Linked DNA regions of Homo sapiens: all the other regions are linked to region 4. The links come from fine-mapping of genetic effects on gene expression. A gene starts in region 4. Each other region holds a variant in brackets. All regions are shown on one strand. Distances are between the middles of the regions.

Region 1 (8,185 bases), 48 kb before region 4:
TTCTCGAGCTTAATGTGGGTAAAACTGATTTTGAATTCCCTTCTTTCTCTTCATAGCTGCCCCCTTCCCCCAGAGTCTGCCCCATCTCCATGAATGACACCATCTTCTACATAAATGTTCAAGTAAAACAATCTAGGAGTTCTTGGGCCCTTTCTTTTCCTCTCTCTCTATGTCCAATTCATCAGTGAGTTCTATCAACCCTACCTCTGAAACCCACCTGGAATCCACCACTTCTCTCCTTGGCACAAGACTCCTCCACCTCCATCATTGCTACCTGAACCTCTGCCTTAGCCTCCTGAGCAATGTCCCTGCTTCTGATCCTTCTTATCACCTACAGGAAACATTCTCCTCATAGCATCAAATAGTCATTTCAATAATGTCAACTATACCTTGTTAATCCTGTGTTCAGAACACCTGACTCAGTTCTCATTACATGTAAAATAAAATTCAAACTCTTTACCTAGTTTACAAAGCCCTTCGTTACCTGGTCTCCTCCCACTTTGAAGACCTCACCTCCCACCACTTTCTCCCTAGCTCGCTTCAACTGCACAGGTCTTTTTTAGGTCCTAACATACCACACGCCAAGCTCTTTCCCCCTTTGCCCTGAATACTCTTGCTACCCTCCCATTGTCTTTGCATGGTGGTGTTCTCTTTTAATTCAGATCTCAGCTTAAATGTCTGCTTGGAGAGGCTATCCAGCCCAATACTATCACATCAACCTATTTTTATTCACTGAATAGAACTTGTTACTATCTCATTGTTTCTTCTGCATTTGCTTGTTTATCTGTTTCTCCCTGCCCATCTCCAACCCCCAATTAGGATGTAAACTCCATGGAAGCAGAAATTTTTCTTTCTTGTTCATGGCTATATCCCCCACAGCCTAGCACTCTGTAGGCACTCTATAAATATTTGTTAATTGAATGAGTGAATACTGTTCTTTAGCTAGACACTTCCTAAATAATATCTGTAATATGAAAGTATAGAGAGACCATTTTGACCAAGCACAAGTGTGGGTAGAAGATTTTTTTTTCCAGGCAAGCCTGGATCTTGTACTATGGTTTAAATGAGATCTGAAATGTACTATTTGCAATTGCTTTGAGAAAGGCTGAATATTTTCTCTCAGACGTAGCTTATTCCCTTTTTGAAAATCATGGGATACCTGGATAAAGAGAAATATTACTAAATATCTGCTTAAAGAAAACCACAAACCGAAAACTTCTGATTTACAAAGAAAGAAATGTAAGCAAGCAAGCTAGTCATATAGGAACTCAACTGTGTGTTCAGAATCGGATCCCAAATCTACGGAAACTTTTGGTGTTGTGCTTAAATAATGATTCTCCTTGTCCATGGCGCTGCTCAGGGAAATTAATAGTTTCTGGTAATAGTCCAGAATTTCACTGGCTAGGTGTCCTCCAAATCGCCTATATTAATAAAAAAGAAAACACAGAGGCTATAAAAATCATAATTTAAAAAATCACATTTAGCTGTATTATTTTCAGGTAACTAACCATTTCAGTTTATAGGTAACTAACCAAGGAAATATGTGGACAATTCTTCACAGTGCCTTGTGGAAACTTCTTCAGTGCCTACTTCTTTTGCAGAATTTCTTCTTTTTTTTTTAATTTTTATTTTTTAAAGAGAAAGGGTCTTGCTCTGTCACCTAGGCTGGAGTACAGTGATGTAATCACAGCTTACTGCAGCCTCGAACTCCTGGGCTCAAATGATCCTTTCACCTCAGCCTCTAGAGTAGCTGGGACTACAGGGGTACACCACCATGCATGGCTAAAGGACTCTGCTTCTTACAGGAGACCCTTTCATGGGTTCCAGGCCATGACAAGCTTCTTGACCTTTCTAGGGTACCCTCTCCTCACACTGTCCTCATACCCTTACTCAACATGCCCTCTGTACCTGCCCTGGTCATTGCACAGAAGAGCCAGTGCACTGGCTGAGCTCTCGGAATGCACCAGGCAGTGTGCTACTTCACACACATAATCACATGTGGCCCCCTCATCACCCCACCCTGCATTGAGAGTGGTATTATTACTTCCACTTAATTCACCAGGGCATTGCAAACTTTGGACGCATCAGCATCACTGGGAGGGTTTAAAAACAGATTCCTGGGCCCCACTTGCAGACATTCTGACTCAGAAAGTCCAGATGGGATCCAAGAATATGCATTTCTAACAAGCTCACAGATGCTACAGACCCCCTACCTTAAGTAACATTGTAACAGATGATTTAGAGGGGTTGTCATTTGCCAAGGTCACAAAGTCAAAAGTCCTAGACCATCGTTTTTTTTTTTTTTTTTGAGACGGAGTCTCGCTCTGTCGCCCAGGCCGGACTGCGGACTGCAGTGGTGCAATCTCGGCTCACTGCAAGCTCCGCTTCCCGGGTTCACGCCATTCTCCTGCCTCAGCCTCCCGAGTAGCTGGGACTACAGGCGCCCGCCACCGCGCCCGGCTAATTTTTTGTATTTTTAGTAGAGACGGGGTTTCACCTTGTTAGCCAGGATGGTCTCGATCTCCTGACCTCATGATCCACCCGCCTCAGCCTCCCAAAGTGCTGGGATTACAGGCGTGAGCCACTGCGCCTGGCCTAGACCATCGTTTTAAACCCAGCTTTGTTTTGAGTCAGAAGTTTGGGTGATTACCAATGGATCAAAATGTCCTTCTTTTTGAGCTGCATAAATAAGGCTCCAGCACTTGTTTGTTGTTGCCTGAGATAGTATTTGTTCGCTGGTTATAAACAATATGTTAGGACTTACATAGTGAGATAAAAGCTAATATTCTATTCAGAATCCCATGTATAAAATGGGCATGATGATGCAATCCTCAAATGAGTTTTTGAGGTAAGTGGCTAGCAAAATTGTTATGATACAAAATCTCCACAACATTTAACATTTTCACAATGTTGCAGAGAAGGGCCGTATTTTATTACTGCTTTGATCACAGGAGGTATCACGAAATATTATTTTTTCTAAAATGAATTGCATGATTGAAACCACCTTTGCAAAGATTACGGCAGTGAAAGAAGTCTAGCATGGCTGACTCCATCTTGTTTCTAGTCTCACAGGCTGGATGTTCTTGTTCATTCCTCCTAACCATGGGAGGAATTTCGTTTATAGTTTAACTTGGAAGCAAGGATGATAATAGTACCTCCCTAAAACGGATCCCCTCCTTGTTTGGGGACTGAAACTGTCTTTGATATAATCTAAGCAAAATCTAATTAGGAAAGTGTGTGTATATATACATACATGTATATGTCAGGGATAAACAGGAGTTTTTAAAGTTATCTGAGGGTCAGAATTGTCCACATTTCTTATGTTATGAGAGATAGGACTGATCACTCTCAGATAAATATTAACTATGT[CT/C]TTTTTTTTTTTTTTGTATTTTGATGCTCTGATATCTGGGGCCTTGCTGACTTCTGGAGGCTAGCCAGTCTCTGAAGATAGTAAACAATTTGCTCTGGAACACGCTTTTCAAAAGCAAACCGATCAATCCAGAGACCATACCCCCAACCACCTCCTCTAGTGGGCTTTCACAATCGGGGCCACCATTTCCCCACCCTAATCACCCCAGGGCCAAGTATGAGACAACTACAGCCAGCTCCTATGCCTCAGAACCCACTGATAATATTCAAACTAGCCAATCCTAAACCTGCCCAATCCTCCCTGTGAAAACCATACTAGAGGATCTCATCCACGTTTTCCTCCCTCTCTCAGCCTCCTGACCCACCCCAGGTCTGCCCCATGTGGTACCCGAGAATGCAGTGTACGCTTCTCTTGGGATCTGTGAGTATAACAAACTTTCTTTGCACTGGCAGTGGTCTCCCAGCACGTTGGCCTTGCTGTACTTAAATAATAATAAAATCTCTATTTTAACACACTATACTACATGGGGTTACTTACTGAATACTGTACGTACTTCCACTTTAGGTAGACAAGGGTGCCATCATCTCTCCCATTCACCAGAATGTTTTGTCCATCCATTGAAATTCTCATTGACTGAATCCCATGACCCTGGTGAGAATGACTCCGACACCAAGCAAATGTTTCCTCAATAGTTAAGAAATAAACCAGAAAAATTACAAATGCAATTCTACCACACGGCTTTTCTAATGGGGTTATATGCCCCTTTTTTGTGGATAAATCATTTTCTATTTGCTAACAGCATTTTAATTGGTATGGAAGTAGGCAATTGGCAATACATAGTATTTAAAATCCCCAGTTCAAACCACATTCACCAATACTAATTTGTTCTTCCACTACCTTTGTGTAGTATGGAAGGACAGGGATTATTATCACCAATTTATAATAGGAAATCAGACACAGAGAAGTGAATGGATTGCAGAAGTCTATAAAGCTAGGGAAGGGGCCTTCAGCAAGCAGAGATGGTGAGTTCCGATGGCTTCAAGAGTCAGGGAGGTTCTATTTATGTGTGAAGTAGCTGAGTATAATGAGAGAGGGTGACGGGCACTGTGAAGAATGGAAGATAACATGCTCTGAAGGATGCTAACTAAGCCAGTTTGATTAGAACTTAAACAAAATGCATCATCAATTTGGTATATAGGGCAACAATTTAAAAACTGAGATTTCTGAGTCATACTGGTTCTCAACCATGATGCCTTTTCTCATTTAGGTTTTTAAATAGGCAATACATTCAAATGGTTCAAAATTCAAAAATTATAAAAGAGTATTCTGTGAAATCTCCTTCCTGTTCCCATGACCTAATACTTCCAATGGCAAGCAAGGTAATTAGTACCTTCAATATCTTTTCAGAGTTTTTATGCATATATAAGCAAATTTTTATATACATATAAAATGTTTCCTATATGAGATCAATATATACACCCACAATATTTTTTTTTAAGAAAGCAGCTTACCAAAGTATAAACGTCTCGGATACACAGAATTCCACATTTAGCTATTGTTATGAGCCACAATCCATGTGAAGACAGATAGAGCAGTCCAGGTCCATACTGTCTGCTTTGTACTTTTTTGTATGGTTTAAGAATGTAGATACCGGTATGTTCCTGCCAATCAAAGAAAATAACCACATTATAGAAAAGATCAGGTAAACAGCACCTTTGGGTTTGCAGATATACATGCCTGTTGTATATTGTCATTGTAAATAAAATGATATGGCATAAAGTGCAAACATTGTCATTGTAAATAAATGGATATAGGATAAAGTGGACACCTGCGTTTGCATCATGTTTCCCACTTTTGCAAATAAAAGTTTGTTTCTGCCAACTAAGTAAAGTCTTCTTTATTTACTTGCCATTAAAAATCCTAGCCTACACTGATAATCTTTGCTTTTACTAATCATTTTCACATATCTTCATGCTTAAGTCAAAATAATGTAGTCAATATTCCCCGTATGTTTCATGCATTCCTACCTCCAAGCCTCTGCACGTGTCCTTCCTTTTGTCTGGAATGCCCTACTCTACTCCATCCCCACCAGTCCTGCCCTACCTCCCTATATGAGCGCTGCCCACCAAAATTGTATGCAATATCTCTCCATGTCTAAATCTGACTTACTTTTCAAAGTCCAGATCAAATATTGCTTCCTTCATGAAACTTTTCTTGAATCTCTCTTGCCACTAATCATTTATTCCTTCTCTGTGTCTAGTCCTGGCTACTCTGTCAAAGAAGAGCTTTGACTGAAGAATTTAGAGGAAGGAAGGCAGACCTTATCAAAGTGGGTAGACAGACATCAAGGGAAAGTGACAGGTCAAGGGGCAGCAAGCAGGAGGGTACTGGGCCATTATGTGCAGCAGGAGGTGACACAATGCATGAGAAGTCTGAAGAGAGTGTAATGAAAAAATGTCAGAAACACAGTTTAATTATTTTTTGTAATTTTGGTTATGGCTTAGATGCAAAGTTCCACTGCAAATCAAATCATCTACCTTGTAGCCCTTGGCATATGTAGAATAGATTTCCTAATGCTAGGTTGTTTTTTAAGGCACTAAACTAATATTGTGTCATCTGCATGTTTATCTGACAAAGATGATGTATGTGGCACAAGTATCAGGTTGCTCAAATATATTGTATGATGGATTAACAAATAACACTATATATCTAGCTCAAGGGAATTATATTAATAAAATGAAGGCATTTGTTAACTGAACTATTCTGTTAAAGTGGTCAAGAGGATCACATCTAATCAGTATAATGTATCAATCTTGATTGCTAAGATAAATGAGAGCACACTTAAGTGTTGACATACTTCTTCAGGAAGAAGGTAGCTACAGATGTATGGCACTTGACTACAGAAGCCATATATTTGGTTACTTTGAAAGCCCAAGACTGCAGAGGACAGAGCGTGCTCCAACTCATACAGGTACTTATGAATGATTTCATCTTTCAGCCTTCCTCTTTCATCAGCAAAGGTTGTGGAAACTATTAGATTTGGAAAAAGAAGAGAAATCACTTGTACCATAAATTAATTTTGTTTTTTTAAAATTATGAACAATTATGAAAAGCAAAATAAAATTTAAATGCTCAACTAATATTGCGGAAGCTAGTAGGTGATAAAAATGATTTAAAAACACTTGTCTCCCTAGAAATACTTGAGTATTAAATGACTGATAGTGGGTAAAATATTTCTGTAATGCCTTGATTAATTTTTAATCAATTAACTTAGAGACATATTAAAAGAAACCCATGGTAGTATAGAGATTCTTATAAAAACATAAAAGTACTTGGAGGTTGTCGGCTCTCTTCTGCTCTATAATTATATATTTGCAAAACTGCTAACCTGATATATTTGTCATTAAAACAAGGAAAGAGTATCTATTTTCTCATACCTTTTTATCCAGAAAACTGTCTTTATAATTTTGTCAGTGAAGGGAACTACACTGTAATCTATCTGAATTTAACCTTGTCTATTCAAAGCTACAAAACAAGAGACATCACAAAAATAACAAATCAATTTGATGTGTCCGTTGATCCTATCTCTTTTCCTATGGTAATAAAGCAGACTCATGAGTCAGGAAGCCCAGAGGAAAAGTCCACACTTCAAACTGTTTAGCATGTTGGTTTTACTTTGTAAAGATAGACAAAAGGTGGCCATTTTACCTCTTCACATGCCAAGATAAAAACAAAACAAACCCAAAAAACAATAACAACAATGTATCTGGGCTCAGGAGCAGAACTGGCTGCTTATGTTTTCCTTACCTTGTGGCAGTAATGTAGGCAGTGTGAACATCTCCAACCTGCTTCTCCCTGCTTCTGGAAGCGAGGAAAGCACCATCACTTCCACTATGTCTGTTTCTAAAAGAGACACTGTGGATATCTGTAAAATGTCTTTGGCCACCTCTGAAAGCAAACAGAGATCAACACCACAAGTGGTCATTGATAAGTTTAAATGATCTTTTACCTTTCCAATTAAGATATCATCCATGGACTTGCCTTCACTATATCTTTAGAATCAAATTATTTGCTGGACATTTAAAGTGACCTTTAAACATAAGTTACAGGGACATTTTTGATGAATGGATGAGGGATTCTCCTGATTAGATGTCTAGACTGGCAGATTTAAACCAGCCCAGTCTGTCTGGGTTTCCTTCCCAGCCAGGGTGGCCCCAGAGTGCACCATCTCCACCCCCTATCCCTCCAAACCAGCATCTGCATGAGCTGGTCCCCACAAGTCCACTCCAGCCAGGTTACCTAATCCTAAGATTGGGTAAACTTAGGCATCGGCCTTCTTTGCATCTGTGGTCAAGGACTGTGGGTGTGGTGGAAACGTGACTTTATGAGCTTGCTCCACTAGAAAGCCAGCTGATCTAACCTCTACAAGGTGTGCCAGGCCTGGAGCCCACCTTGGATTTGTTCCAGATTCACTCTCCCATTCTTCATGGGACTGTGCTGCAGGTGCCCACTTTCTCAGGCCCTTCCCCAGGCGGTCAGCAGATGACCTTCCCTCTTCCTTAACAAGGAAGACCAAGGACATCTACATAAACTCAATCTCAACTTTCTTATCCTGAGACTCACACTTTCCCCTTGTCTGTTTCCATTTTCTCCATTCATTTCCTGACATTGATGTAGGAACAAAATGTAACCCCTCCCTGTCTGTGATTTTTGAGCCCATTCCTCCAATCTCCTATTAGACCATACATTATCAATCACCTCTTTTTAGCTTCTTGTGTCCCTTATGGTTCCTTTTATTCAGCCCTCATGACTCCC
Region 2 (8,185 bases), 99 kb before region 4:
ATGTTGTAATTTTCTTCTGAGATGGAGTCTCGCTCTGTTGCCCAGGCTGGAGTGCAGTGGCACATTCTCGGCTCACTGCAACCTCCACCTCCTGGGTTCACACCATTCTGCTGCCTCAGCCTCCCCAGTAGCTGGGACTACAGGCGCCTGCCACCACCCACCACGCCCGGCTAATTTATTTTTATTTTTATTTTTTATTTTTAGTAGAGATGGGGTTTCACCATGTTAGTCAAGATCTCCTGACCTCGTGATCCACATGCCTCGGCCTCCCAAAGTGCTGGGATTACAGGCGTGAGCCACCGTGTCTGGCCAAAATATGTTGTAATTTACAAATGATACAAGGCTTGGAAAAAGCTCTAACAATTTGTCTTGTTCTCATTGGTGCAGCAGAGAATAATCTAAATACTCTCGTAATTTTTTTCTGATTATGAAAGAAATGCTTACTGAAGAAAATGAGAAACAGAAGAGCATAAAGATAAAAATTACCCATAATCTCATAACTTTTCTGACAGTTTCATAAAATTAGAAATGCTAGTTTGGCAAAGAATTTCTTTTTAAGACTTTCTATACCATAACTATGAAAATATCTTTGATCCAACTCAGATTAAATGAGTAAAATAGATCTTGAATACTTTCTGACTTCAAGTCTTGTTTATTCTTGAATAAAAACAGCAATTCATGGTATTTTACACATTTATTCATGCAGGACAAAAATTTGTATACAATTAAGGCTAAAATTAAACAATTTTTTATCTAAAACATGCAACTCAGAGGACATGCTACTTCAATTTCCCAGTAAGAAAGAAAAGGAAATCATTTTACCCAAATGAAATGATTTTTTAAATGATTGATTTGGCCTTGTGTTTTCCTGCCAGCGTTTTTACATTTGAACAAGAGCAGGAAATGTTTTCATTCTTAATCTTTCAACTTCAGTCTGTAGTATTGAAATCTGTTCAGCTTGTTGTTTTGAAATATTTGTTAACTTCTGCTGTTGCATCATGTTTTCATACCGTTCTTTGACAATCTTTTCACAAGTCAGTTTAGACCCTATCCCAAAAATGAATAAAGGAATTCGATTATTTATCAATACTTTCAAATACAGAAGCAGCACTCAGAATCATACATGTGGAAGAAATGCTGGTAGCAAAAAGGCATATGCACTTGTATGTTTACAGCAGCACTATCACAAAAGCAAAGACATGGAGTCACCCTAGGTGCCCCATCAACAGTGGACTGGATAAAGAAAATGTGGTACATATACACCATGGGACACTACACAGCCATAAAAAAAAGAATGAAATAATGTCCTTTGCAGCAACATGGATGTAGCTGGAAGCCATTATCCTAAGCAAATTAACACAGGAACAGAAAACCAAATACCACATGTTCTCACTTATAAATGGGAGCTAAACAGTGGATACTCATGGACATAAAGATGGTAACAGGGAACACTTGGAGGCCAGGTGTGGTGGCTCACACCTGTAATCCCAGCACTTTGGTTAGCTGAGGTGGGCGGATCTCTTGAGCTCAGGAGTTCGAGGCCAGCCTGGCCAACATGGCAAAACCTACTCTCTACAAAACATACAAAAATTAGCCGGGCATGGTGGTTCCTGCCTGTGGTCCCAGGCACTTGAGGGGGCTGAGGTGGGAGGATCAATTGAGCCCAGGAGGTGGAGGTTGCATTGAGCCAAGATCATACCACTGCACTGCAGCTTGGGCAACAGAGGGACACCCTGTCTCAAAAAAAAAAAAAAAAAAAAAAAGAAAAGAAACACTGGGGACTACTAGAGGGAGGAGGCAGGGAGGGAGGAAGGGCTGAAAAATTATGGGGTACTATGCTCAGTACCTGTGTGACGGAATCATTCCGTACCCCAAACCTCAGCATCACACAATATACCTAAGTAACAAACTTGTACATGTACTCCCTGAATCTAAAATAAAAGTTGAAATTATTTTAAACAATGTATTTTTAAAGAAATGCTGATAGCTTTTTAACTGTTGTATACATTTTAGGATTACTGATTACTTTTAAAGAAACCTACAGTTGGTTAAAGAAAAAAAAGCATGCTTACCCATTGCATTACAGATGTCTTTTCTCTCTGAGACAGCTACCAACTCTTCTCGTAGATTGCAGCTTAGGGCATAATTTGCTATATCTTTTTGATTGCTGAACTTTCCAAGTTTTTTGAGTAGTTTCTTGCAGTTTTCCACATTCTTTTTGTGCATCTGAAATTTTTGTTCCCATGACACCCCACAAAATTAATTTTGAAAAATGTAATTTATCCTATAAAGACATTATTCTTATATTTTAAATACATTATCATCATTAAGATAACATCTTACCGCCATATCTGTAGTGCCTGGCATAGTAGGCACTCGAGTTATTTGTTGAAAGGTAGAATGGTATGTTAATAACAAATTTTAGAAAAAACATTTTGTATATTCTTAAACTGAGAGAATATTTTAAAAGCTTGAGATTGCTTTGTTTCTAATATATGCTACATAATAAAAACTGACCATTTTTATTCAGTGATGATTAAATAAAACCTTTCCAATGCCAAGGAAAGACTACCAACACTCCTATTACATAAATCCTAACCTAATGTAAAATAGAAAATCCACTTACACTCAGATATGTCCCCAGGGGTTAATTCTAATATTAAAGGAAGTGCTTAATTTTATTTCATTAGTTGCGGTTGCAAAGATACTACTTAGGGACTTTTAATTACCTCATGAATACTAGTAAATAACCAAGATTTTATTAGGGTCTAGGTAAATTCATGATTTGAAACACTATTACTTTGCTCAAATGATTTACAACTGTTAGGATATAATAACCAACGTCTTTGAGACTTACCTTATCTAAAACAGCAATGGTTTGTTCCATTATTCCAATCTGAATACTAATCAGAGCCTCATAGTTTGGTTCATTTAGGTACTTTGAGATTAAAAAAAAACATGTAAGGATATTTTTCTCTCTTTCAATAGATGACTTTATAAAGGTTGTTTTAGCTTTGAAAGTTACTGTTTTTCATAACAAATATCTATGCAAGTTAAGATTGATTTGGCTTGGCCAGGCGTGGTGGCATACGCTTGTAATCCCAGCACTTTGGGAGGCTGAGGCAGGTGGATCACCTGAGGTCAGGAGTTCAAGACCAGCCTGACTAACATGGTAAAACCTTGTCTCTACTAAAAAATACAAAAAATTAGTTGGGCGTGGTGGCACATGCCTGTAATCCCAGCTGCTCCGGGAGGGTGAGGCAGGAGAATTGCTTGAACCCAGGAGGTGGAGGTTGTAGTGAGCGGATATCACACCATTGCACTCCACCTGGGCAAAAAGAGCAAAACCCCATCTCAAAAAAAACAAAAAAAGATTGATTTGGCTTTTGTGCCATAATATTTCCCTGTATTTAGCCATCAATACATTCATGTACACTAATTATTACATCAAAGCACCAATTATTACAAATGCCTACTTTATTTTCTCATTCATTAATTCATTTATTCAACTCACCAAACATTTAA[GTGT/G]TGTTCCACTTGAGTCCCACATTAACAAAGTCCTAGTTAAAGACACTGAGGGAGATACAAAGATAGATAACATGTCCTAGTCTTCATGGGAAAATGATCACATAGATATGATTGGTTGCCAGAAGCCATGTAGAGTGTCATGCTAATTCAAAGGTGGTTTGTAATGAGATGGAATTTCTCCAGGCTTGGAAAATCAAGAAAGGTTTTATGAAGGAGAAGGTGGTATTTAAACTAGACCTTGAAAAGTAGATTTGGGATGTACAAAAAAGGCAAACTAAGAAGAGCTGCTGGGAGGTGAAAACTATAGAAATGGGGCATGGCTTGGAATCCACAGAACTTGGATTAGTTTGTAGGAGTGATCGTTGAAGTTAGAAAAACAGAGGACATCACCCAGGGAGAGGTATGGAAAGAAACACAAACATAGCTAAGGGCAAAATCTTGAAGAACGGCTATATTGAAGTGTTAGAGGCAAAAGAGAATCCAGTAAAAGAGGTAGAGTGGTATGACATGTTGGAAGCAAAATTAATTTGGGGTGATGAAAGCCAAAGGAATGAGAAATTAAGATGGTTAAATGCTACAGAGAATTGAAGGACCACCGGGTTTGACAGGAAATCCTTAGCTCTGAGTAGAATGATTCTACTAAATGGGTCATGAAGAACTGGAGGCTGCAAATGTAAACTGTTGGAAGAAAAATAACTCACAGATATATTTTGAAACACTCCTGGCTTAGAATATGCTTGATATCACAGAGGCTTCTTATTAAATACTGGTTAAATGAATGAATACATTAATGAATAAAATTAAAACTATGTAGGGGGGTAGGGAGAATTTACCTTTTGACGATCTCTTGAAAAAAATAGCATCTGAATATCCCAAGCCTTCTGATTTAGATCTTCCCTTTCCATCTCCATTTTCTTATGTTCCCACTCAATCTGAAGTATTCTTTTGTGTACATCTTTACTTTCCATCATGCTAGCAACTTTCTTTTGTCCTTGAGTCTTTAAAAAAGTACATTAGATATCCATATAATATGATTCTGCATATAGAACATAGAATATTTGAGGCTGAATGCTATTTTTAGAAAATACTTGGGTCACAGAGATAATTCTGTCTTCTTTTTAAGAAACAGACATTAAAAATGGCTTCTTGGGCAAAATCTGATCACTATAAAGCATGATAGTCACTAAACAGAAGGGATTATAAGATACATTTAAATAGCAGAGCCAATTTACTTTATATGTCAACAATTAGGCAGGAACTTTTTTTTGCCATCACCCAATCTACCAACCTGTATGCATTTGTATCCCTATTCATTGTCCTCCCACCTGATGCTGGGTGTGGTGTCTCATGCCTGTAATCCCACCACCTTGGGAGGTTGAGGCAGGAGGAATGCTTAAGCTCAGGAGTTTGAGACCAGCCTAGGCAACAGAGCAAGACCTCAACTATACGGAAAATCAAAAAATTAGCCTGGAATAGTGGTGCACGCCTGTGGTCCCAGCTACTCAGGAGGCTGAGGCAGGAGGATCACTTGAGCCCAGGAAGTCAAGGCTGCAGTGAGCCGTGTTCATGCCACTGCACTCCAGCCTGGGTGACAGAGCAAGACCCTGTCTCAAAAAAAGAAAGAAAGAAAACAGAAAAACAATAGTCAATGATGAAACCAAAAGTTGGTTCTTTTAAAAAATCAGCAAAATTGACAAACCTTTAGCTAGACTGACTAAGAAAAAAAAGGCTCAAATTGCTAAAATAAGAAATGAAATCAAGAATATTACTACCAATATTACAGAAATTAAAAGGATTATAAGAGAATACTATGAAAATTCTACACCAACAAATTAGGTAACTTAGATGAAATAGAAAATTCCTAGAAACACACAAACTATAAAAACCAATTCAAAAAGTAATAGAAAATTTTAATAGACCTAAAACAAGTAAATAATTGAATCAGTTATCAAAAACCTCCCAAAAAAGAAAAGCCCAGGACAAGAAGGCTTCACTGATGAATTCTATCAAACATTTAAAGAAAAATTACACCAATACTACTCAAATGTTTCCAAAAAATAGAAGAGGAGGGAACACTTTCTAATATATTATATGAGGCCAGCAGTACCTTGATACCAAAGCCAGAGAAAGACATCACAAGAAAATTACAGACCAATATCCCTTATGAATACATACACAAAGACAAAAACGTTCAATAAAATACTAGCAAACTGATTCCAGCAGCACATTGAAAGGATTATAACTATGACCAAGTGTCATTTATCCTAAGATTGCAAGAGTAGTCCGCACAATCAAACAATATAATATACCTCATTAACAGAACAAATTTAAAAACTCACATGATCATGTCAATTGATGTAGAAAAAAAAAATTGACAAAATCCAGCACACTTCAATGATTAAAAAAAATATATGCAACAGACTTGGAATAAAAGGGAACTTCCTCAACATGATAATGGGAATTTACAGAAAACCCATCATAACTTCATACTCAATGATAAAAGACTGAAAGCTTTCCAACTAAGATCAGGAACGAGACAAGGATGTCCCACTTTTTGTCACTTTGATTCAACACTGTAATAAAAATTCTAGTCATGGCAATTAGGCAAGAAGAAGAAATAAAAGGCACCCAAACTGAAAAGATGTAAAACAATTTCTATTCACAGATTAATGAGTCTATATATATAGAGAAAGTCATATAGAATCCACAAAAACCCTACTAGAGATAATACATAAATTTGGCAAAGTTGCAGAGTATAAGATTAATATGCAAAAATCAGTTATATTTTTATACATCACCACTGAAAAATCTGGAAAAGAATTAATAAATCAATTCCATTTACAATAATATCAGAAAGAAAAAACCTAGAAATAAAGTTTATCTAAAAAGTGTGTGTACAAAGAAACCTACAAAATATTACTGAAAGAATATAAAGATTAAATAAATGGAAAGTCATCCCATGTTCTTGGATCAAAAGACTTAAGACAGTACTCCTCAAAGGAATCTATAGATTTAATGCAATCACTGCCAAAATTTCAATGGCTTTTTTTTTTCAAATGGAAAAACCTGATCCTCAAATTCATATGAAGCTGCAAAGGATCATGAATAGCCAAAACAATATTGAAAACAAAAAGTTGGATGGCTAACATTTCCCTACTTCAAAGAAGAAAACAGGGACTGAGGCCAGGCACAGTGGCTCACGCCTGTAATCCCAGCACTTTGGGAGGCTGAGGCAGGCAGATCACCTGAGGTCAGGAGTTTGAGACCAGCCTGGCCAACAAGGTGAAACCCTGTCTCTACTAAAAATACAAAAATTAGCTGGGCATGGTGGTGGGCGCCTGTAAATCCCAGCTACTCAGGAGGCTGAGGCAGGAGAATCGCTTGAATCCGGGACATGGAGGTTGCAGTGAGCCAAGATCATACCACTGTGCTCCAGCCTGGGAGACAGAGCGAGAATCCATTTCTCCATTTCAAAAAAAAAAAAAAAAAAAAGAAGAAAAGAAAAGAAGAAAGAAAACAGGGATAAATCTTCATGACTTCAGATTTGATTCTTAGATATTTACTTATTTTATTTTATTTTATTTTATTTTATTTTATTTTTTGAGACAGAGTCTTACTCTGCCACCCAGGCTGGAGTGCAGTGGCGCCATCTCGCCTCACTGCAACCTCCGCCTCCCGAGTTCAAGTGAGTCTCCTGCCTCAGCCTCCTGAGTGGCTGGGATTACAGGTGCCTGCCACCATGCCCGGCTAATTTTTGTATTTTTAGTAGAGACGGGGTTTCACATCTTGGCCAGGCTGGTCTTAAACTCCTGACCTCAGGTGATCCCACCTCAGCTTCCCAAAGTGCTGGGATTACAGGCATGAGCCACCGCACACGGCCTGATTCTTAGATTTAACACCAAAAACATGAGACAATCCACAGAAGGGGATAAAATATTGGCAAATTATATAAGGGTTTAATGTCCAGAACATATAAAAAACTCCTATAACTCAACAACAAAACCTAATTTGAAAATGGGCAAAAGACTTCAGTAGTCATTTGTCCAAAGATATACAAATGGTCAACAAGCATATGAAAAGATGCTCAATGTCATTAGTCATTAGAGAAATTTACATCAAGAATAAACCCACTAAGATGGCTGTAATTAAAAAGCAAGCAAGCAAACAACAAAAAAGAGAAACAATAACAAGTTTTGATAGGGACGTAGAGAAAGTGAAACCCACATACTTTGCTGGTGGGAATATGAAATGGTGCAGCTACTATGGAAAACAGTTTTTAGTGCCTCAATCAGTTAAACATACAATGACCATACGATCCAGCAATTCCACTTCTAGGTATATATCCCCAGAGAACTGAAAACAGGTTTTCAAAAACTTGTGCATGAACAGTTATAGGCACCACAATAGCCAAAAGGTGGAAATAGCCCAAATATTCACCAGCTGATGAATGGATAAACAAAATGTATATCCATAAAATGAAATATGATTTGGTCACAAAAGAAGAATGAAGACTGATACATGCTACAACATGGTTAAATCTTAAAAACATGCTAAGTGAAAGAAGCCAGAAAACAAAGGCCACATATTGTATGATTCCATTCATACAAAATACTAAGAATAGGCAAATCCATACAGAAAATGCAGATTAGTGGTGTCC
Region 3 (8,185 bases), 59 kb before region 4:
GAAATCTCGCCAACACACATTTGAAGTGCCAGTTTGTGACCTCTGTCTGGGAGTCTTTACTGTACTTAATTCTTCTATTATTTACATCCACAATAAAAAGAACCCTCTACTACTCTTGGGGATCATACAATCTGTGTTTTTTTCCACTTAAAAACATGTTACTTCAATTAGTTTTACTTGCTTACATAATCCTATTGCTTATTATTTAAATAATTAAGTATTCTTATTTTAATAGAGTTTTCTGAAAGGCCTGGTGTGAAAGTGAGATCTAACAATCTTTAGTCCTTAGGATCCTCTTCAGGACCTTTGTGCACTTCATTTTGTTGGCAGAATTATTAGCAAACTAGATAAGACTAATATCTCGCAGATTTAAAATGTCTTTTTTAGTACTTCTTGTGAATTTCTATTTATTTTATTGTCTGATTAAATGACTTTAATTTGCAATTCATTTCTTTTTGATTCTGATCCAGTGAGTTAATAGCTAATATAGTTTTAAATTATTTCTTTCTAAATAGACAGCTGGCTTGGCATATCAGTTGTCAGAGCCTGCCTGATTCCTAGCCCACTCGGCCCTCCTCTCTCCACTGCTGAGGCTGTTTGATCAACTCCTCCAAACTCAGTCCCTAATAATGTGTCCAGATTGTCATTATCGGGCTTTGGTCTTCTTCCTATCATTGGGATCCTGGCCGGGGTAGGGTAGTAGCCTAGTCTCTCATTCACATCCTTGACTGGCAGGTGCCACTAACTCCTCCCAAGGACTAGTATTCTGATCCTAAACATGCTGAAAGCTCCTAAACAGCTGAGTTTATGGTGCCATCTGCTAACACTGTTCTCTCCTGGGCCACTGTTGTACCTAATCTGGTGTTACTATCTCTTCAAAGGCACAGAGCTCAAGAAAAAAAAATAAACAATATGAGGGAAACTAGCATATGGAAGGCCTTTCTCTGCACCAAATCCTGCCTCAGAGGATCAAGGAGAACTCTTGAGGGATGAGCATGAATTTGGTAAGTGGCAAGGAGGGGCATCTGGGGCAGAGGCACAGGGTGGCGGTGGGGTAGGTAGGATGAGTTTGGCAATGGTAAATAGTTCAGTGGGCCAGGGGAGCAGGTTCACTGTGTCAAGTAGTTGTATACAGCTTGGAGAGAGAAGCAAAGATACAGTGAGGAAGCGGGCAGGCACTGAACCCACACACATTGCTGAGTGGTCAAGATGAGTGGGCTGGGAGAACTTGGTGCAGAATAGCAGGGGGCATTCCGAGCCTGAGCCAAACCAGAGCCAAGGAGGAAGAGTCAGGATCTTCCTGGCTCTGATCTTAGCCAAGTGACTCTAATTCTCTAAGCCTCTATCTAAGCCTCAGTTTTTTCAAGTGCGGCAAACTATCACCTGCCTCTTTTGATTGTGATGATCAAAATAAATAACATTTAAAAAGCTCCTAGATTGGTGCCTACCTCTTGTGATAAGAAAATGGGATTTTTTTTCATAGCTTCCTGTTGCACAGTTAATAAAAAAGCCAAATTCTTTACCGCAATATACAAGCTCGTCAGGGCTAGCCTCTGCCTACCTCCCCAACCTCATTCCATTAGGCTCTCTCCCATCCACGATGCTTCAGCCTTTCTGGTGTGCTGTTCCTGGAATACTCCAAGCCATTTCTGCCTGTGGGCCTTTGCTCTTGCTGCTCCCTGTGCTTGACATTCTCTTCCCTCAGATCTTTGCACAGCCAGATCTCTCTCTCCCTTTAGTTCTCAACTGAAATGTCAGCCCTTGAAGTGGTTTTCTTTGACCACAGAAGTAGATCTCCCACATCTATCACAGCATCCAGTTTGTTTCCATCATATACTATGTAGAGATTTGTTTACGGCCTGTCTTCTTCAATACATTAGCCCCATGACAGCAGAAATGTGTCTGTCTTCTTTATTCTATTCCCAGCACCTAGATTAATATGCCCAGCACATTAATAAATGTTGCAGAATGAATGAAGGAATGATTATCTCAGGTAAATTTTATTGTACTAAGTCAGTCTGTTGAGATACTCTTGTCCTAATTGTTATCCACTACATTTCCTCACCTTCTCAGTCTCATGTCATTCACTAATTTGACAAATCTCCTCATTTCTATATCTTCACCCCAGTCATTAATAAACATGTTTATCAGGACCAAGTCCTGGGGTACATGGTGGAAACCTCCCTCCTAGAGGCATCAGTCAAATAATCAACCTCCTCTTGGTGTAGTTGTTTAATCTATTATAATCCACCTTAACTGTCCTTGAATCCAGCTATCTTGCATTCTCCTGTGTTTTTATATTTGCACATTCAAAAAATTAACCTGTACTAGCAGGTTGAGAAAGAGGTAGCTTCAGAATATCCTGTGTAAAACACACTTAGGGCTTTTATTTAAAATAAAATCCATATGAGCAAACAATTTGATGTGACTGCCAGAAAATAATACAAAGGCTGAATTAATAGAAGTATAGTATGAATGGAGGTTTCAGTTTATGCTTTTCTCTACACTGGACAGAAAATAATTTGAATTCTTCTGTGGGTACCATATGCAAATATAATTAATCCAGAGGAAAACGGCATGATGATGACGAGGCTATTGAAACTATAATATATGATGGTCATAGGAGCTGGGATAATTAGCCCAGACAGGAGAAGATCCACAGGGAACATGGAAATTTCTAATCCTCTACCACTCTCAGAGGGGCCATAGAGTAGGAAGTGCTCAAAGAGTAGAAGGATCAGTGAGTACAGGAAGAAAGATTTCAACTCTAATTAAGAAAGGGCTTACTAAACCAGAAGCGTCCAAAGTTGGCATGAGGTGGCTGAGAAGACTTCCAACAATGTTCAAACGTATGGCTGGCACGAATGTCATGGAGGGGAAGCAAATGTCAGATGTCTGGCTGGCCTAGATGTTCTCCCTGCTCCTAACCCCCAAATTCGATGATCCTCTGATTCATTATACTTATATGCACTATGTTTGCTTTATTCACATTATACTGAAAAAGGTTTTGTCATATTCACATTATTATGAAAAAGTTCCCATTCCTATTATCTTTTTACTTCTTTCATCATAACTTTATGGTGCTTAAATTATACTTTTTCATACCTTTGCCACTTCTTCCTGACTTTCATCATGAAGCCTTTCTAGTTCCTCAAGATCCAGACCAAATTCCTGTTGGTCTAATTTTGCAATATTTTCTAGTTTGTCATTTTCTTCCATCATATTCAGAATCTGAATGTTGAAATAAAAAAGAGTGCTGACAAGTAAAGAATTAAACTGTAATAAGATAATTTTCTTAGTTTCTTTTAGGCAGCAATCAATAAAAAATAGATGTTCTATTTATCAAAATGTACTACTAAGTAAATAATTAGATTATGGGCTTATTGTGGTTATTGAAGTTTTAAGGTTTCATCCTTAAAAACTCTTTCATTTAATAAGGAAAACTACAAAAATATATAAGCTCATCATTTCATTCAATGATATTAAAGCACTGTTGCTAGTTTGAGGTACACTAACAGCATTGTGGTTATGTGTTTTAAGAGTCTTTATCATTTAGAGATACATACTGAAATAATTAAAGATGATATGATGTTTGGGATTTACTTCAAAATAATCAGGGGAGGGGTAATGGATGGAAGCATTGGTGAAATGATATTGGCCATTGGATGTATTATATTATTCTCTCCAATTTTGTATAAATTTGAACTTCTATACAATAAAAATTATCTTTAAAAGTTCATAACTTAAAAAAATTCAGGAGCAAAGGATACACACTACAACACATATGACAAAATATTAATGTCTTTAATATATAAAAAGCACTTACAAATAAAAACAAGGCAGACAAATGATAGAAAAAAATGGGACTTCAGTTTCAAAATGGTAGACTGAGAATGAGTTTAACAATTTTTCTTTTTTGCCCCAAAATATAAAGTTAAGAGAAAAGAAGTATATAGCATAGATAAACCCATTACTACAATGAAGAGGAAAAAAGGAATAGAATCCTTCAGGAGCATGAAAACTATAACAACTGAAAGACGGAAATCAGATGGATCAGCAGGATGCATCACAGCCC[T/C]GAATGCCCTCAGCACAGCACTCAACAACGAGTGGAAGCTACACCAGATACAGGAACAAGGGTTTACCTAAGAGTGCTGGCAGGTTGATTAGCTGGGGGTGCTGCATCAGAAACAGACAGTAGAACCTGCCTGTAACCCTACCTGGTGAAGTTCCCTAGGGTCCAGCAGTAGTAACTGGAGTGTTTGTCTCCAGGTAGAAGAAACTGGAATGAATATTTGGATGGGAGAAACAGGGCAAGGCCCAAGGAATCTGTTAGTGGCTAGAAAGAATAGAGAACCACCCCCACCACACAATGGGATGCCAAGACACTTCCCAACACCACCCACCCCTTCACTTTTTACTGAGAGCAGACAGAATACCTGCTAAAGTCAGATCTCCTACACTTCTTCCAAAGCAGACTGACCTGGTGTCATGGAACTATAACAGGGAGTTTCAATTATAAAGACAACCATGAAATAATAACAATAAATCACTAAATATTTGGGGAACAACAAGACCACTGGAGAGAGACAATAAATTCAACAAATAGAAGACTTGTTGCCCAAAAGAAAAGTTAATTGAGTGAGAAGGGTATAATTTTACAGTAACTAGGGATGCAAAATATTGTATTTCATAAAAAGAATCATAAGACTAGAAAAATAAATGAAGTATAAAGACTGATGAGAGAAATATGTTATTTTCAAAAGATATGATAGTCTACCTAGATAATCTAAGACAATCAAGTGACAAAATAGTAGAACTAAAAAGAATTCAACAAGGTGGTCAGAAAAAAATCAGTAACATTCACATATACCAATAATATATACCAATATATAACATATACCAATTGTATTAGTCTGTTTTCATGCAGCTGAAAAAGACATACCTGAGACTGGGCAATTTACAAAAGAAAGAGATTTAATGGGCTTACAGTTCCACATGGTTGGTGAAGCCTCACAATCATGGCAGAAAGTGAAAGGAAAGGCATGTCTCACATGGCAGCAGACAAGAGAAGAGAGCTTGTGCAGGGAAACTCCCCTTTTTAAAACTATCTGATTTCCTGAGACTTATTCACTACTGCAAGAATAGCATAAGAAAGACCCGCCCCCATGATTCAATTATCTCCCACCAGGTCCCTTCCACAACACATGGGAATTATGGGAGCTACAATTCAAGATGAGATTTGGGTGGGGACACAGCCAAACCATATCACCAATGCAATAGAAAAATATTCCATTCACAAAAACGGTATAAACTATAAGATACCTAAAATAAACCTAATAAGAAATTTAAAGTCACTTTCAGAGAAACTATAAACTTTCACTGGAGATTACCTTTTTAAAATTGAATAAAGATAAATAAATATATAATATACACATATGTAAGTATTATATATTTAATGAAAATATAACTGGCCGGGCGTGGTGGCCCACGCCTGTAATCCCAGCACTTTGGGAGGCCGAGGTGGGCGCATCATGAGGTCAGGAGATTGAGACCATCCTGGCTAACACCGTGAAACACCATCTCTACTAAAAATACAAAAAATCAGCTGGGCGAGGTGGCGGGCACCTGTAGTCCCAGCTACTCGGGAGGCTGAGGCAGGAGAATGGCGTGAACCTGGGAGGCAGAGCTTGCAGTGAGCCGAGATCATGCCAATGCACTCCAGCCTGGGCGACAGAGCGAGAGCGAGACTCCATCTAAAACAAACAAACAAACAAACAAACAAACAAAAAAAAACCAAAAAGAAAATATAACTTTAAAAGTTATATATTTTAAAAGAAATAAATATACAGGCCTGGTGCAGTGGCTCATGCCTGTAATCCCAGCACTTTGGGAGGCCAAGGCAGAAGGCTAGGAATTCAAGACCAGCCTGGGCATCATAGGGAGACCCTGTCTCTTCAAAAAAATACAAAAATTACTTGGGCGTGGTGGTGCATGTCTGCAGGCCTAGCTACTTGGAAGGATGAGGTGAGAGGAATGCTTGAGCCCAGGAGTTCAAGCCTGCAGTGAGCTACGCTTATGCCACTGCACTCTAGCCTGGGTTACTAAGCAAGATCCTGTCTCTAAATAAATAAATGAAAGATGTAAATATATAAATATACAGATGCTCCTCAACTTATGATGGGGTTATGGCCCAACAAACCCATGGTAAGATGAAAATATCATGTCAAAAGGGGCATTTGTAGACATGATGGGCTGTGAAAACATAAAACACGATATCCAAAAAATGCTGGCAACACAGTACACTTCAGAATATTCATTGTTTACCTTCGTGATTGCATGGCTGACTAGGAGCTGTGGCTTACTGCTGCTGCCCAACATTGTGAGAGAGTATGGTACCGCATATTGCTACTCTGGGAAAAGATCAAAATAAGCCTGCAGACATGTGCCACCACGCCCAAGTTTCTACTGAATGTGCGTTGCTTTTGCACCATCATAAGGTTGAAAAATTATAAGTTGAACCACTGTGAGTTGGGGACTGTCTGTATATATCTTAATTCAATTTAAAAAATATTCTTCAGTAAAGTTTTATCATACATACTTATATATATACTAAAGTTCAGAGCTGGCAGATAAATTCTTCTCCAAATCAAACTATAAGCAATATATTCTCAATCAAAATCAAATCAGAGTTTTTCATGGAGATTGACAAGCTGAATTTAAAATTCCAATGGAAAATTAAGTACACATAAAAAGGCCAATTTTTTTTAAAGAAGGGCAAAAGGAGAATTATTCTCAAGGTACAAGAACTATTATAAAGTGATAGTAATTAAAATAGCTTGGTATTGGCTCAAGAAAAATCAATATTCAATCTTAGAACAGAGTCCAGCAACAATCCTATATCCAGGGATTGATAGAGAAGACATTGCAAATCAGCAGAGAAAGGATAGTATATTAAATAAAACAGACTGGGGAAATGGGCTATTTATTTGAAAAAATAAAATTAGAACTATATGTCATACCATTCACAAAAATAAATTATAGATGAAATCAAAGAGCATTAGAAGAAAATATGTGTGACTTTGAAAGGTCATTTAAAATCAGAGGTAAAACCCAAAAGTTATAAAGAAAATGATCAATAACTTGGATCATGCCATAGTTTTAAAATTCTGCTTTATAATAAAATTATTTAAAATTTGGCACATTATAAAAGTTAAAAGAAAGTATTTAGAGTAGGATGAGCCATATACTTTTCTAGAAAATATTTGTAGGTTGAGCCACATAAAACAGCAATTGCATGAAGTTCCACCTAATAATAAGGGCTACCTTTAGATATGTCGCATTCACACTTCCACGCTCTTCTCCTTTCCAACTGACTCAAATGAGATCAAGCAAGGCAATCTTCGAAGCCCTGAGTTGAAGATAGCAGGGTCTCCAACAGTCTGGGTCTCTGAATGACTGCATGGAACAGAGCAGCTGCTGAGCTAAATACCCACCCAGGATGGTTACATGGGAATGAAATAACCTTCTCATCACTGTGCCACTATGTTTTTCTGAGTTTGTTACCATAGGCTAGCTAACTCTAATTATCATAAATACATATAAATAAAAAATAAAAATAAAGAACTCCTATAATCAACAAGAAAATGACCAATTATCCAATAAGGAAATAGGCAAAGAATATAAACAGGAAATTCACAAGAGAAGAAATACAAATAGTGTTTAGAGTTATGAAAAGGTGCTCAGCTTTATTAGTAATCAGGAAAATAAAAACAAAGGCCAAGGAAATGATTTAAGAACTTTTTCTAAAACCAAGAGACAAAGGTTTCCTATTAAAATGCCCATCGAAGTCTAGCACATGGAAGAAGAAAACACCTAGGGTCCTGGTAGGAAAAAGTAACACATTCAAATGGGAAAACTGAAGAGAGAAACTTAAAAAAAAAAGATTTGGCAGAGTAAGGAGAGCCAGCAACACATGATAAAGCATTAGGCTACCAACTGCGGGCTCGGGAAGCCATCTCTGCTCGTAGGTCTGAAGGGCAAAGGCTGGGAGTGGTTAATGAACCTGGAGAGACCCATAAATGTAGGAGAAGGATGGCGGTCATTGCCAACTCATAACCCTACAGGGAGGAAACTGGGAGAATGAGGACCCTGGTCTTAGTCTTCTGCCCTGCAATCTGAGCCCCAA
Region 4 (8,185 bases):
AACCAGGCTTTCCATCCAGGAATATATTTCTATATATTTAAATATTTTAAATCAATGATTTTTGTAGTTTTCTTCCCCTAGGTCACTCACACTTTTTTTTGAATTATTTCTAAGTATGTATATGTTCTAATTGTATGGGTACTTATTTCAAAACCAGCATCTTACTGAGCATTCTTTTGTTAGTCCTAGCAGACTATCGCATTATCCATCATCCCCTTTCCCATAGCTATATTTTTTTCAGTTTTATATTTTGTTGCATTGGCTAGAACTTCCAGGTTGATATTAAATAATAGTGATAACAGGTCTCTCTGATTAATATTACTGATTAGTATTACTGGGAATTCCTTTAGGGCATCATTATTCAGTAAGACTCCTGGGTATTGGTTTGAACTAACTTTCAATTGGTTCAAACAGAACTACAGCCAAATAACCAACCTGGGGAAATTTTAAAGATAAAGGGTATAGTCCACCTAGATAGTCCCCAACATGTGAATGGGTTATGTTTTGAAAATTGTCTTAAACTGTTGAGAATGCAAATTTCACCACAAACAAAGTATTATAAATTATAGTGAAGTTCCCTGACTTCATCCAAACACTTATTTGACCCTTAAGACTACAGAGCTAAGTCCAGCCTCAAGCATGAGCTTTCTGCCCATGGGGTGTTAAATGAAGGAATCATTAGCTGGTGGCTCCAGCAGACGTGCAGCAGCTCAGTGTGGGTCAGCTGTATCTAAGAAAGAGTCATTAGGCCGGGCACAGTGGCTCACGCCTGTAATCCCAGCACTTTGGGAGGCGGAGGTGGGTGGATCACTTGAGGCCAGGAGTTCGAGACCAGCCTGGCCAACATGGTAAAACCCCATCCTCTGCCAAAAACATAAAAAAAAAAAAAAAAAAGCCGAGCATGGTGGCGCACACCTGTAATCCCAGCTACCTGGGAGGCCAAGGCAGGAGAATCACTTGAACCCAGGAGGTGGAGGCTGCAGTGAGCCAAGATCATGCCACTGCACTCCAGCCTGGGTGATAGAGCCAGACTCTGTTAAAATAAAATAAATAAAATAAACACTAATAATTCAAATGGTAGGCAACATTGAGCACTTGGCATACATACACATACAGCATATTATATATTTTCATCTATCATCATCACCGCAGCCTTCACATTAGACACCATCTTTATCCCTATTTCATGAATGAGGAAATTGAGGCTCAGAGACTTGACTTTAGAAGCTATACAAACATCAATTCACCTGGATTTTCAACAAATATTAGGAAAGAAAAAAAAGTCATTGCTCTGAAAAAGGCAATAGTCTTCTAGCCCAGTGCTTCTCAAAGTTTAATGTGCATATGAATCACCTGGGAATTTTGTTAAAATGCAGATTCTGATTGAGTAGCTCTGATGTGGGAGCCAAGTTTCTGCATTTATAACAAGCTTCCCAGGTAGCACCAATGTTGCTGGTAAACAGACCACACTTTGAACAGCAAGGCTCTAGCTAACATAATTTAAATCCTCAGTGATCAGCTTGATTCCTTCTTTAAAAATGTATATTAAAAAAAAAAATGGGGCCAGGCGTGGTGGCTCATGCCTGTAATCTCAGCACTTTGGGAGGGTGAGGCAGGCGGATCACTAGGTCAGGAGTTGGAGAACAGCCTGACCAACATGGTGAAACCCCATCTCTACTAAAAATACAAAAATTAGCTGGGCGTGGTGGTGCGCACCTGTAATCCCAGCTACTCAGGAGGCTGAGGCAGGAGAATCACTTGAACCTGGGAGGCAGAGATTGCAGTGAGCCAAGATCGCACCACTGCACTCCAGCCTAGGCAACAGGGCAAAACTCCATCTCAAAACAAACACAAAAAACAAACAAAAAAAACCTTTCAAAAAATAAATCTTCACTTATAATAGATTTAGTCAACTCTTTAAACAAAATCCTTCAATTATGGGCAGAGGAAGGGTTCTCTAGAATACCTTTCAATTTGGTCCTTCTGGTCAATCCTGGAAAGCTGTATACGTAGATGAGAGGTTTTAGCTTCCGGTCAGAAAAAGCCACAACTTCACAGGGGATGTTAGTTGCCATGACGCCCACAATTCCATTACTACACTGCAGTACAGTCTTTTTCTTGGTTTCAATATTAATAAATATTACATAATTCCCACAAGGGTAGCAAATGGTGTTGTCGTTGACAAAATGAACATTCTGCTTAGGGAATCCTTGCACCCATCTTTGGGAAAAGATATGTCAACATCAATATAATACATTTCAAATACTTTTTTTTTTTTAACAAAGCAAAGGGTCATCAAAATCTTTGAAACATTTCTATTTTCATGTCCTTTCTGCCCCCAATTTCTAAGATAAAAGAACACACATGCTGGCTGTGAGATCCATTTGAGTCAATGAATTATAGAAATTTAAATGTAGACCTAAAGTTCCGTAGGTCTCCCAGGCCTTCTTCAGATAACTTTTTCAGCAAAGGAAACTCTCTGACCAAACCTGAGAAAGTCTCAGAAGGACTTCTGGGGTCTTCTATACTTGGAAGACAAAAAGTGAAAATAACAGAGAAAAGAGCTTGATCTCAACACAGTGGCATCCTGGGCCATTCTTTTATAATTAGTTTGATTTTTTTAAATAAACTTTAAAAAACAACTTTGCATAGGACAGCCTGCTTTGTGGTTGTTAGCAGAGTAGGAAAATTGCTTATTTACACAGATGAAGAGTATGTGGCCATATTTTAGATTTAAAAATACAGATAAACGTAGAAAATAAAAGGAATGAAGTCGACGTGAATGAAAGGCTAGCACACAAAAAGAACATACTCTCAAGTAAGGAGTGCGTGCTAGGTGTATGCTAGAAAGGAGAGGAGATGAAGGAGATTCTATTTTTATTTAAATATTAAAGGTATGCTTGAAGATGGTGGAAAAGGCAAGTGAAGGACACTGGTTTGGTGAGAAACCTCGAGACATTAGAGTGTCCAGGACTAGCAGGGGATGCTGTATAGAGTGGAGGTGGGGGCTGGGAGGAACACTCTAGAATGTAGGGGAAAAAATGCCACCTATATCTGCGCAGTGCTTGATGCTTTTCAAAGGCTACTATAAATGCAAATAAATCCAAAGCTAGTGGATAGGAGTTAGAAGGAAAGGATTCAGGGACCTAACTTTGGGGAAAATCACCAAAGGTAGCAAGGACGGGATCCGGGCTGTCGCCAGGTGGAGGGGGAGGGGGATGTGATCAGAAGACCCGGATCACTAGCGGGAATCCTGAGCTAGAAGGAAGAGATGAAGGGTGCAGGGGACGTTGCTGGGTAAGAGACGGAGGGTCAGGGTCGCAGAATAAGGAGTGGGAAAGACAACTGGGGACGGGGTCAAGGAACAAGGGGATGGGGAGCGGACAGGGGAGGTCACACGGGGAGGGAGGCTGAGGGAAGGCACTGGGGGCAGAGGGGAAGAGGTCGAAGCTGCGGGGAAAGCCGCCCTAAGGAACCGGAGGGAGAGGAGGGAGGAGGGGACTTGGGGCAGGAGGTTCCGCGAGACCCAGATCGGTCGCGGGGCCGTGAACACCGCACCTCACGGACAAGGACGCGCCGCCGGCGGAGTGGGGGCCTTCGTCGCGCTCCCGGCCTTGCGCCATGGGCAGTGTTTTCCTCAGGCGGGAGCAGGCAGCGCACGCAGCACCCCAGGGCGGGTCGGTTACCTTTCCGCCGCCGCGGGGCTGCGGGCCGCGACGCCGCTGCTGTGTACACCCGTATCCCGGAGACCGTAAGCCCCGCGCCCATTGGCTCTGCGCTTTGGCCCGCTCCCTTCTGAGCCGAGCAGATTGGTGGAAGGTCTGCCGCTCTCGGCCAATGGGTGAGCGGCAAGCCAAGCGAGGGGCGGGCCCCTTGCTGTTCAAAGTGTGGTCTGTTTACCAGCAACATTGGTGCTACCTGGGAAGCTTGTTATAAATGCAGAAACTTGGCTCCCACACCAGATCTACTCAATCAGAATCTGCATTTTAACAAATTTCCCCAGGTCCGGGCCAATAATTGCAAGTAAGACTCATGCCTACAATCTCCGCGCTTTCGAAGGTCAGAGCGGGAGGATCGCTTGAGGCTAGGAGTTGAAGACCAGCCTGGAAGACATAGCGAAACCTGCCGCGCCCGTGCCGCATCTCTACAAAAAAATTTAAAAAGCAGCCGGGCATGGTGGTGCACGCCTGTAGTCCCAGCTACTTGGGAGACTGAAGTGGGAGGATCGCTTGAGCCCAGGAGTTCAAGGCTGCGGTGAGCTGGGATGACGCCACAGCACTCCAGCCTGGGCGACAGAGCGAGACCTGTCTCTAAATAAATAATTATTTTTAAAAATCAATAAATTTCTAAACAGACTTTCATTTAGAGTGCTGACTGTGCCAAACATTGTTGCAACGTCTTCACATCTCCCATCAGCCCCATTTTACAGATAAGTAACGTGAGGAAAAGAGAAGCACATAATTTGTCCATGGCTACAAAGTTGAGTGGGACTTTATTTATTTATATTATTTATTTATTTATTTTTGAGATAGGGTCTCACTCCGTTGCCCAGGCTGGAGGGCAGTGGCTTGATCTTGGCTCACTGCAACCTCCATCTCCTGGGTTCAAGCGATTCTCCTGCCTCAGCCTCCCAAGTAGCTGAGATTACAGGCACGTGCTACCATGCCCAGCTAATTTTTTGTATTTTTAGTAGAGACGGGTTTTCACCATGATGACCAGGCTGGTTTCAAATTCTTGACCTCAAGTGATTCGCCCGCCTTGGCCTCCCAGAGTGCTGCGATTACAGGCGTGAGCCACCTTGCCCAGCCCTGAGTGGGACTTAAACGCAGGTCTAGCTAATTTAGAGCTCCAAGCCCTTAAGTACCATATAACACTTTGAAATGTACCCTCTTGCTTCCTCAGGGAAGCAGACAGCTCTGGAAGTAACCTGATTGAATGGTCGGCAGCTTGTCATTCCTTCTTCTCTCCCATACCTTCCCTTAGACTCCCTCCCTTACCCTTCTTCCTTTCCCTTCAGTCGTCTTCCCTTCTCTACCCTTCCCTTCCTTTCTTTAGGTCTTTCCTTCCTGTCTTGCTTTCTTCTCTCCATTTCTTTCACAAATATTTACAGAGCATCCCGCATGCATTCATGCATGTGCTAGTCACTTGGAAAAAATAGAAAAACAAATAAAGTTTCTTCCTTCTTGGAACTTAGAGACTGGTGGGATCCAGGGAGTTGGGCTAGATATCCACATGGTCTCAGATGGTCTGTGTAAGTTGTGAAAGGATTTATGAAAGTGATTTTATGCAAGAAATGTTGTACAATTCACGGATTGTTAGGCCTCCTAAATGCTTCATACAATGCCCTATGACTCTTACTGTACAACTTGCCTGCTTAAGTAAGGGTGAGCCCTGTGGACATGTGGAGTTAGCTATGCCCTCTAGCTATGCTAGAGAGTCAGCTGTTATCTGCACTTCTGCCTGTTGTGTCCTAGGCTAGGCTCCACACCTAGTACACAATTAAAATCTCTTACTTACCAAGGTTTTCACCAAAAATAAAAGTTGCAAAAAGTTAACATTATAACATGTAATTAAAACTACTAAAGAAACAGTTTTACATGCAAGGTGTGTAAAGAAAGTAAAATGTGTTTTTGGTGAAAGATTATAAGAAGTAATGGGAATGTGGATTTTTCTCTGCCTACATTTAAGTGTTAAAGGATTGCTTTAAGTAAAAAAAAAAACTAAAGGTTTAAATAAGTTGTGGAAGGTTTATAAAAATTAATTGTAAGAGATTCTGTATGTGAACATACTGGCTAAAGTTACAGGGGTATTATTCAGTTTTTCGATAAATTAAACATTGGAATAAAAGCACAACAGGTTTTTCTTAGAGTTGATCTGCTCTTTCACACACACACACACACACACACAATTGTAAAGGGTTATACGAGGTTTATAAGACTCTTACCTTATGGTTAACATTAAAATTGGGTAAATATGTCTATAAGGTTTTATTAAAAATTGGGTTTAACATTAATAGCACATTAATGTAAAGGTAAAATTTGGCTTATTTGCTATAAAAATCATATAGGAAGCATTGCCAAATATGAAATGGTTTTTTGCTTTTTTTGGACTATATTTGCATAAATGTGTTATTGGTATATGTTACAAAGTTATGAGAAACTCTTATAATTCTAATATGACTTAGTGTAGATTATTAATAATTATAATTGTTATGTAAAATTTTGTGTGCCACATAGGTAACCAAGTTTCCTTATCAATTGTGGCTTTAATAGTGGCTATCCTAAAACTTTTTATCATCCACAATTGTTTTCTTGTTCTAATCCTCTTTAGAAGGTGGTTTATAATCAACTGTAGAACTCCAGCAGGTGTTCCCAAATGCAGGTTTCCAATAACTTTGGAAATTGTAACATTAGAATAGAGGAAACAACTTTCAGAACCCTCATGTAGAGCTGGAATGTTCATGAATATCAGAGTCAAGGAAACTTTTCTTTTGAGCTATTTACAGCTTTTAGCAATTGAGTATACTTCTGTGAACAAAATTTGGAGTATATTTGTTTCTCTCTACCTGATTTTTCCAAAATTTGGAAACTATTTGTGAGTATTCTTAATTTATGGCAATATAGTTATTTGCATACATGCAATAAGGATCTGTTTTCTTTTGTAGCAGAACACAATTGGATAAATTGGTTATTTCACCACGGCTTTAACTGGAATGGTGTGCTTTCCTTTAAGGAATCAAACTTGACTTGTAAAGCCAATAAAAGCCACTTGGAGAATTGGCCTCAGATCTTGTCTGCAACTGTCCCTGTAAAGGTAAGTAAAGAATGACCTGTGGTAAGTAAAGAATGTCACTTTCTGGCAGGTCCAGGAGTCCTAAGTTATCTTGGGACCTCAAGAGAACAGGAATTTACTCAACTCATAGATATTTGAGGATACAAACACATGGCCGAGCTTGGCTTTACAAAGTCTTGTCTAAGATTACTTCTATAGAGCAGAGTTCCATCAAAGCTAATTTAAAAAGAGCCTATGTGAAAAATAATTATTTTTGTTGCACTTTATACAAATAATCAGGCCAAGTATAACAAAGCAAATCAGCCTTACCATGATTTGTCTTTAGTAAAAATGAGAAACTGGAGAGAGAAATATTATGTTTCAAGTACTGTGGTATACTTGTTATTAAATTCTAGTCTCATTAGTTGTTTTTAAGTTCGTTTCTGCAATTTAGGCTAACCCTGCTTATTCCTGTGAACCAACCAATGATCTCTGACTGCTGCTCAGAATAAACAAAAGGGATGGGTAATGTAAAAATCTGGATCAGTATTCTAATTCCGGGCACATCACATTCAGCTAATAACCCCATATCAGCTTAGTTCCAACAGCTGCCCAGTTCATGAAAAGCCTTCTAATTTAGCTTACTTGGAACAACTTTACTTATTTTGCTCTACCCTTGTGGAATATATTGCTGTTATACTCTTTGTGTAGGAATACAGGACAAGCTTACTAAATGTTTTCTTAAACACGTATTAATCTTCCAGATATCACCTTTTGTCAAAACTCAACAGTTATGAATGGACCTTACCATACTGATGTTCTCTGACTGAACTCCTCTCTACCCTGAATGCAAGAGACCCTCATAGTTAGGCAGGAATATCATCGCCCCTATTCAGCCTGAAAAAGTTACAAAAGATGGATCTTTGTCCCTCTGCAACCCTTAGGATTAAGGGTTCTCTTATAAAAGACAAGGGGGAAATGTCAGAGGCATGTGAACAAGAGCAACTCCATCTTAAATAGGAGCTGGGCAAAACGAGGCTGAAACCTACTGGGCTGCATTTCCAGATGGTTAGGCATTCTAAGTCACAGGATGAAATAGGAGGTCAGCACAAAATACAGGTCATAAAGACCTTGCTGATAAAATAATTTGCAGTAAAGGAGCCAGCCAAAACCCACCAAAACCAAAATGGCGACGAGAGTGACCTCTGGTCATCCTCACTGCTACACTCTCACCAGCTTCATGACAGTTTACAAATGCCATGGCAACATCAGGAAGTTACCCTAGATGGTCTAAAAAGGGGAGGCATGAGTAATCCACTCCTTGTTTAGTATATCATCTTTTATTCCTTTACTTTCTTAATAAACTTGCTTTCACTTTGCACTGCGGAGTCACCCTGAATTCGTTCTTGCGTGA

Alleles and levels. Alleles are on the strand shown, and positions count from the first base shown. SD is a standard deviation of normalised expression in the study named. Not every link is listed here.
With allele CT in place of C in region 1, the expression in prefrontal cortex of the gene that starts at base 3,741 in region 4 is lower (moderate effect, 0.51 SD a copy in CommonMind).
For the expression in prefrontal cortex of the gene that starts at base 3,741 in region 4, T is the low allele of the variant in region 3 and C is the other (moderate effect, 0.47 SD a copy in GTEx).

Evidence for each region. PIP is the estimated chance that this variant, and not a neighbour inherited with it, causes the effect.
Region 1: its variant is fine-mapped to the expression of CFAP43 in prefrontal cortex (CommonMind, PIP 0.95).
Region 2: its variant is fine-mapped to the expression of CFAP43 in nasal epithelium (TOPMed, PIP above 0.99).
Region 3: its variant is fine-mapped to the expression of CFAP43 in prefrontal cortex (GTEx, PIP above 0.99). The same link has a PIP of 0.9 or more in adrenal gland.

What each region holds. Positions count from the first base shown.
Region 1 is chr10:104,181,093-104,189,277 of GRCh38, forward strand. It overlaps CFAP43 (cilia and flagella associated protein 43), which reads right to left. Exons shown (of 38, transcript NM_025145.7): 13 at 7,178-7,318; 14 at 6,228-6,400; 15 at 4,882-5,031; 16 at 3,924-4,054; 17 at 1,274-1,421. Among named protein-coding and RNA genes, the nearest start is that of MIR609, 34 kb to the right of the region's middle. The variant CT/C (reference allele first, on the strand shown) is at 3,370.
Region 2 is chr10:104,129,259-104,137,443 of GRCh38, forward strand. CFAP43 (cilia and flagella associated protein 43) reads right to left here. Exons shown (of 38, transcript NM_025145.7): 35 at 4,362-4,526; 36 at 2,858-2,938; 37 at 2,073-2,226; 38 at 630-1,047. The coding sequence ends at 881. Among named protein-coding and RNA genes, the nearest start is that of SFR1, 11 kb to the left of the region's middle. The variant GTGT/G (reference allele first, on the strand shown) is at 3,526.
Region 3 is chr10:104,169,305-104,177,489 of GRCh38, forward strand. It overlaps CFAP43 (cilia and flagella associated protein 43), which reads right to left. Exons shown (of 38, transcript NM_025145.7): 20 at 3,106-3,231. Among named protein-coding and RNA genes, the nearest start is that of MIR609, 45 kb to the right of the region's middle. The variant T/C (reference allele first, on the strand shown) is at 4,076.
Region 4 is chr10:104,228,624-104,236,808 of GRCh38, forward strand. CFAP43 (cilia and flagella associated protein 43) reads right to left here and starts at 3,741. Exons shown (of 38, transcript NM_025145.7): 1 at 3,559-3,741; 2 at 1,967-2,220. The coding sequence starts at 3,623. RefSeq lists an enhancer at 3,568-3,862.